Linked DNA regions of Homo sapiens. The protein of the gene in region 2 interacts with the protein of the main gene of each other region in a pairwise test. Each region holds a gene or a part of one and is shown on either strand. Other genes may lie near its edges. The genes, in order: PTPRJ and EPSTI1.

Region 1 (3,821 bases), on a different chromosome or scaffold from region 2:
TGGCTGGCTCCTTCCCTTCATTCAGATCTTTGCTCAAAAGTCACCTTGTCATTGAGGCCTTTCCTGAGCACTCTAGGTAAACATCCCACTTCCTCCTTCGAAAAGTTCCAAGAAGGCAAGGACTTGACTGGCATATGGTATATGCTCAATAAATATTTATTGAATGCAGAAATGATGAGGGCATCGAGACAGCACCGATAAGCTAACAGGATGCCTCGGAAAGCTCAATGTCCATCACTGCACATCACACAAAACCAGACAAACTACAGACTTGGGAGGACTGACCTGCAAGGTCAGCACCACTCAGGGAGGAGTCCAAGAGGCAGTTGGGGCTACACTCACCTGTACAGAATGACTTCCGGCCAGGTTCCAGTGACTTGATCCCATCCCCTACTTGTGCAAAGATCTCCACTGTGTATGATGAGCCAGGTATTAATTCAGTGACTGTAGCGTCAGTAATTCCAATGTCCGTGACTACTTGTGTTGCGTTGCTGGAATTTCCAGCCTTCTCAATAAGAAGGCAGTAGGAGTACGTGGGAGAGGCGTCATCAAAGTTCTGCCAACTTAAAGTTGCTGCTGTGGTGTTGGTACTTACATCAATGTTGGACACATTGCTGGGCCCTTGATTTTAAAAAAAAGGCAATTCATGTAAAAGCACAGATTAAGTAGAATTCCAGGACTATTTACTATATCCAAAAATAGCCTGGCTCGTTTTAGAAAGAATGAATAAAACTAGTATTTGCTGGCTCAAAAGATGGAAAACTTCCCAAAAACACATCAAGAAAATAATTATACAGATTAAGTCTCAAAAGAAGTTTAATTTAGGCTTCTTTTAATACTTCAAGTTTATTTCAAATATATTTTTAACATTTAATTTCTAATCTGTTTTTTAAATCTAATAGATGGAGAAAAATATACTAAAAACATATTACAAACTAACATCTTTACCATGTATTTAATTCAAATATTCGCAAAACACCTCCCTAACTGTTGCAGGCGAAGCTCCTCATCTGGGCAGTATCTTCCAATACCAACATGACAAGGTGACCCTTCTCTACTCTGTATTCTCAAGGAATGACTAGAACCATTTCAGTCACCATTCCCAAGGAATCATTTCTTCCTTCTAATGACAATTCTAAGTTCACATAGCTTGAAGAACAGTGCCCCATGGTGACAGCAGAACCATTGCTGAGACCAATGTTTTCAACTTCAGCAGTTTCAGAGTCAACCTGGATCCCAGAAGCACACTGGCCATCATTTAACCAGTGCCTCCTCCAAGAGACAGTTAGAGAGGCTGTTCCTTAGAAGGGCATCCTAAGAGACTTACGTGTGTACTGTGCAGTGGAGTTGGGGTCCCCCCAGACGTGGTCCACTTCTGGAGAGATGGTGATGTTATATAAGGTGCCCGGAATCAGGCCCTGGAGAGTAATCGCTTTGTCATACGTGCTTGTGTGGTTAGAGCCATGCTTGGACTCTATGACTAAATGGTAGACATACTCGGAAGCACCGTCAGGGCTCTTCCAGTCCAGCCACATCTCCGTGGTGGTGACGTAGACCACGTGGATGTCAAACACTGCACTGGGAACTGCTCAGAAGAAAGGAAGGAGAAGGGAAAACTGTTACTATCATGACGCCCAGCTTCCTCTCCAAGTGCTGTCGAGAGGACCTGCTCTTTTGCCATTACGCTTTCTAATGAGTTCACAAAAGGCACACTCCAAAATCGAGCTGAGAAATGCACACACTCAGTGCTCTCAAGAATTTCAGCTCTTCTGTGACGCACATGAACTTCCCAGTTTATCTTACCAGTTCTCCAGTTTTTTGTTGTTGTCTTAAAAATGAGCCCTTAGGCTGGGTGCAATGGCTCATGCCTGTAATCCCAACATTTTGGGAAGCCGAGATGGATCACTTGAGGTCAGAGGTTCGAGACTAGCCTGGCCAACATGGTGAAAACCCATCTCTACTAAAAATACAAAAATTAGTTGGGTGTGGTGGTACACGCCTGTAATCCCAGCTACTCGGGAGGCTGGGGCACAAGAGTCGCTTGAACCCAGAAGGCAGAGGTTGCAGTGAGCCGATATCACACCACTGCACTCCAGCCTGGGCGACAGAATGAGGCTCTGTCTCAAAAAAAAAAAAAAAAAAAAAAAGGCCAGGCGCGGTGGATCACGCCTGTAATCCCAGCACTTTGGGCAGCCAAGGCAGGCGGATCACCTGAAGTCGGGAGTTTGAGACCAGCCTGACCAGCATGGAGAAACCCCGTCTCTATCAAAAAAAGTACAAAATTAGCCGGGCGTGGTGGTGCATGCCTGTAGTCCCAGCTACTTGGGAGGCTGAGGCAGGAGAATCACTTGAACCCGGAAGGCAGAGGTTGCAGTGAGCCAAGATCGCGCCATCGCACTCCAGCCTGGGCAACAAGAGCGAAACTCCATCTCAAAAAAAAAAAAAAAAAAAAAGCCCTTCAAGGGGTCATCTGAAGTGGAAATCACATTCAGTTTTTTTATATGGGTGCTGGTAACAAGATGTGTTCAGTTTGTAAAAGTTCATGAAGCTATGTGCTGAGGATACATCCCTTTTCGGTATGTATATTATATCTCAATAAAGAGGTTTTTTTGTTTTGTTGTGTTTTTTAAATCAGTCACTCAGAAGGAAACATCTTCCCGTGACACAGCCTTACATACCAAAGAGGAAAACTGAAATGGAGAGCTGACCTTTACTAAGTTGCAGCATTTGAGGACGGATGAGGAAGGGAAGAAAACAGGCACACCCTGCACCTTCAGAGCAGAGTCAGAAATGGAATCTCCCACAGGAGCCCATCCTCCGATCATCTCCCGCTGCCCACTCAGCCACCTGCACCAGGGATGCCTACATAGAGGCCCGGAAGTAACCGCGGAGGCTGGGCCTATTTTCTACCGCGGCTTTCAACCCTGTCTCTCTTTACCTGGCAACAAACGTCACCTCCAGGGAGAGGAAATGGGCAGGTAGGGGACAAAAAAGGGAAATGCTTTCACTGCAAACACCTTGTCCAAAAAACAAAAAAAATTGTGCCATGTTTACGTACTATCTACTCCAAAATTAATTTTTTTTTTAATTTTAAGTGGATTCTCCTTACAGAGAAGCCACTGGGAGGAGCCTTTGTTTCCTACCAGCAGATTCCTGATGTCAAAGGGATTCCACAGACAAAAGCCCATGAAAGGCAGCCTTTGTCTATAAACATAAAAACCTAGAAACAACCTAAATATTCAATAACATGGGGAGGGCTGTGGGCACTGTGATCTGGCTGCATGATGAAATACTCTTTAGCCACTAAAAATATGAAGGCCATGCTAACTATAGGGGAAAGTTGTGGTATAGACTGAGTAAAAAGAAATTCAAATACAAAATAAAAGTATTTGTATAATAATTACAGTATACAAGCAAAATGTATGACTGTGGACACAGAGAGAAAAGGAATTCAGTTGGGTTAGAAAAATAGAGATATTTGTTCCTTTTCATTTTTATTGTGGTAAAACATACATACCATAATATTTATCATCTTAACCATTTGTCAGTGTACAATTCGGTATCATCAATATTCACAATGTTGTGTAACTATCACCACTACCTGTACCCAAAACACTGTCATTATCCCCAGCATAAACTGTAGCCATTAAACAATAATGCCCACTCCCTCCTCTGAACAGCCCCTGGTAACCTCTATTCTAATTTCTGTAGAATATTAAGTTGCCTAATCTAGGTACTCATGTAAGTGGAATCATCCAGTATTTGTCCTTCTGTGTCTGGCTTCACTTAGCATAATGTCCTCAAGATCCATCCATGTTGTA
Region 2 (3,821 bases):
ACTTTTAGTGACCAAAGCACCAGAGAATTATTTCAAAGGAATCTTTATAATACGCACACCAAGCTTGCATAAACACTGAGAATTCCCTAAATGGTAATTCTTAGATGATTGTCAAGCTGCCAGGATTTCTGGCCCCAAATTCTTTTAGGTTTAAGAGAGAGCAAGTAAATAATCTAACATCCATATTTTTATTTTGACTATATAAGGAAAGAACAATAAATAGTATGGATTGATGATCAGTTACTAACTAGAATATTCCCATTGTATTTTTAGAAACTGGGTTATAAAGACTACATGCTTGTCTAGTGGCAAGACCTCTGAGAGCCTCCTGAGCCTTGCTGCTTGAATATAAGGCAATAGAGTTAGAAGAAGAAAAGCAATAGAAGCACCTTTGATCACCATCTTTACTAGGTTCGGGCATGGTCATATTCAAGCAGGAGGAATATTCTACAGTTTCCAAGACAGGCACTATTTCTTCTGTTTAGCACAGACCTTTAGGTATGATTTCAATCCAAGTGAAAACTTTAATACCTACATGATTGAAAAACCTTAGTAAAAGTGCTCTTTTGTTTTAAAAATATGGTCTCCTCTTTCTATCCAGCTCTTTCTTCTAAGTGATTCCCCTTCTTTAAGGTCTTCTTGGAAAACTGGTTATGTTCTTATTTGCAAGAGCATGAGAATGTTAAGGGAACTCATGTTATAGATTTATTATATATTAATTAGTCCTCGATGGCTGACATTTCAGCTTAATATTTATGTTTCACCTTCATGGATTTTTTTTTCCTAAGGTGGAAGCCAGTCAGAAACTGAAGTCAGACAGAAACAACAACTCCAGCTGATGCAATCTAAATACAAGCAAAAGGTCAGAATTCATCTCTTTTAGTTGAATTTTGGTAAGGAATATGAGTACCAGCTCTTACAAGTAACTGTGAAATAACACAGTAACTTTACCAAAAGTATAAAACCTTCCAACCAGTTGCAAAAGGCAGCTTTCAGAATCAAAGCTCTCAGGAAGTGAGAAGTGAAGAGATGGATACCTTCAATTCCTACCTAAGCCCTTTATCACTCAGCATGACCCTCGATTAAGGGAATTATTTTTTTCATTTAAGTTAACTATGTTTAACTATAGTTTAAAGTCTACTATGTTTGGAATGTTTTGGTTCTAAGAATATGGATTTGTTTACTGCATGGCAGTCATGGAAGTAGTACAAAAAATATTTAAGATTCCCAGCGATTTTTACAATGAACACTGAGTTTTGTAATCAGGAAAAATTATTTTCCCTTTTCCCTCCCCAATACACACACACACCACACACACATACACACAGAGAGAGACAGAGATAGACAAAGACAGAGACGTTGAAAAAGAGACAGACCAAGGAAGAAACACAAAGACAGAAATTTCACGGGCAGAAGACGTAGCCCGGCCATTCTCTGTGATCTAAGTAGCTTGAAGTAACAACCTATAATCATGGTGAGGTATAGCACAAACAATACTGTAATTTGCCTTTCATCATAATTTTGTGTTCCAGAGTTCAGACTGAAAAATGGTAACTGTTTTTGTTCTCTGTAATTTCAATACAATTTAGCTAAAAAGAGAAGAATCTGTAAGAATCAAGAAGGAAGCTGAAGAAGCTGAACTCCAAAAAATGAAGGCAATTCAGAGAGAGAAGGTAAGGAGGAGGAGGATTAGTTCACATTTGCTGATCAACAATTATAGTTTCGTTGTAGAAGATTTTTATTATAGTAACTTTAAAAATTTATCCATCTTTCTCTCTCTCTCTCTTTCTATTCCCCACTCTTCTTTTCCTCATCCAGTTTTTTTCCTTCCATTTTATCCTTCAAAGGAAGATTCATGCTTAGGTCTTGTGATTCTAGAGGAGGCACTCTCTTTACGGAGCATAGCCTGTATTTCAGGTAGAACAAAGACAATTGTTAAGTCATCACCAGGAACAGGGTGAAGAGGCTTGCAGACCCTTAATAATTATTGTATTGCAACCTCTTGTCCTAAAGATCATTTATTCGTTGTCATTTAATACCCATCATTGGCTGGCGTGTGGGTCATTTACAGCTAATTTCTTCATGGGTCAATAATGTACGCTATTCATAAATGTTTGTGGTTGAAACTGTTTCCTTTCTTTTTTTTTTGAGACGGGGTCTCACTCTGTTGCACAGGCTGGAGTGCAGTGGTGTGATCACAGCTCACTGCAGCCTCAGTCTCCTGGGGTCAGGCAGTCCTCCCACCTCAGCCTCCTGAGTAGCTGGGACTACAGGTTAACACCACTATAGCTATTTTTTTTTTTTTTTTGTATTTTTTGTAGAGACAGGGAGGGTTTCACCATGTTGCCAAGGCTGGTCTCGAACTCTTGGGCTCAAGGGATCCACCTGCCTTGGCCTCCCAAAGTGCTGGGATTACAGGAATGAGCCACCATGCCTGGCCTAAACTGTTTAAACATTGTCTAAAAGTAGTGTTTTTCCCTTTCCTAATATGATAACTGTAATTCTGTTGGCATAAATTTGCCAGGATGTGAGAGATGGGGAGAGAGAGTTGATCTGTAGACCCTTCCCATTGAAAATATGGCCCTTGAACAAGCACCATTGGCATCATCTGGGAGTTTGTTAGAAGAGCAGAATCTTGAGCCCTACCTCAGACCTACCGAATCAGAATCTGCATTTTAACAAGCTCCCCAGGTAATTCCTGTGCACATAAAAGCTCGAGGAGCATAAATTTAAATGACCTTGCAAAAGAAGGGGTGACCCATCCTTGTTCTTCCACAGATGTGATTTCTCTGGCTGATTGGCCTGCACTGTCACCATGATCCTAGCCTTCCCTGTTGTAGATAAATCTGTAGCTTTTCATGTTAAATGTGAGCCTAGTTAGTAGCTTGTGTCAGATAAGAAAAATGAACATTAGCCATCTAGAAATGACATATTTCACATTGCCAGTGTGGAAATGGCCGAGGGAAGTGATAATGGCTGTGCTTATGGAGCACTTATATTTTAAAATGCACAGCAAACACACACATGGACATCAGCCTGCAAACACGCTGCCCTCCTCCCCAGGCAAATGGCTGCTGCCCAGTAAACTCTGAGCCAAGTAGAATCCAAGCAGCCTATTGCCACCCAAGAGCCTCTAGCCTTGTCTCTGGTCTTCCCCCACTGGCTGCTGGTCCCCTTCTGCCCTTCATTTCCTTCTCTCCCAAAAGAAGTCAGGGGACACTGGGTCTCATTCTGATTGGTCGTCATCTCTGTGTGCAGCATTTAGTGAGGGAAGAATAGACTGGATTCCTTGCCAGCATTTGTGCATGTTCTTTGATCCTTAATAGACAGACAGGTGTGAAAGTCAACCAGCTCTTTAGTATCCAGTCATGTCAGTGGGGCCCAGGAAGAGTTAATCCTATGGGTACAAAGGGAAATTTGGAGACAGCACTGGTATACTTGAGTTGTATTCAGTTCAGGAATGTAACTTGCATTCCCTAGACTAGAGTCTGTCACAGTATATATACTTCTAGTGATGTTCTGTAGCTTCCTTGTACTGCCTTGTACTGTGGGAATTGTCACATTTTCAGGATTTTTTTGAGCTACTTGGCTTCATCATTGTCAGTTTGAAACCGACTGTGGTGGAAAATATTTACGATGTGGAAATCAGTAAATGCTACAGATTAATTTCCCCTCCTGCTCCTACCTGCTAGACCTGATTAAATGTTGACCAGCACACCACTGCTTAGCACTAAATGAAAAAGGTATTTTCTTACCCTCCCCTACCACCCATATTCTAAAGCCAAACCTCAGAGGGCTAGGGAGAGTAAAGATTTGGGGAA

What was found.
Region 1: the proteins of EPSTI1 (region 2) and PTPRJ interact in a two-hybrid assay, tested with the Homo sapiens proteins (one large-scale study listed by BioGRID and IntAct).

Annotation. Positions count from the first base shown.
Region 1 is NC_000011.10:48,133,803-48,137,623, reverse strand, and holds part of PTPRJ (receptor-type tyrosine-protein phosphatase eta isoform 1 precursor), read right to left. Parts: intron 1,586-3,821; coding exon 1,328-1,585; intron 622-1,327; coding exon 343-621; intron 1-342. UniProt on the Homo sapiens protein: Tyrosine phosphatase which dephosphorylates or contributes to the dephosphorylation of CTNND1, FLT3, PDGFRB, MET, KDR, LYN, SRC, MAPK1, MAPK3, EGFR, TJP1, OCLN, PIK3R1 and PIK3R2. Plays a role in cell adhesion, migration, proliferation and differentiation.
Region 2 is NC_000013.11:42,961,107-42,964,927, reverse strand, and holds part of EPSTI1 (epithelial-stromal interaction protein 1), read left to right. Parts: intron 1-788; coding exon 789-862; intron 863-1,589; coding exon 1,590-1,673; intron 1,674-3,821. UniProt on the Homo sapiens protein: Plays a role in M1 macrophage polarization and is required for the proper regulation of gene expression during M1 versus M2 macrophage differentiation.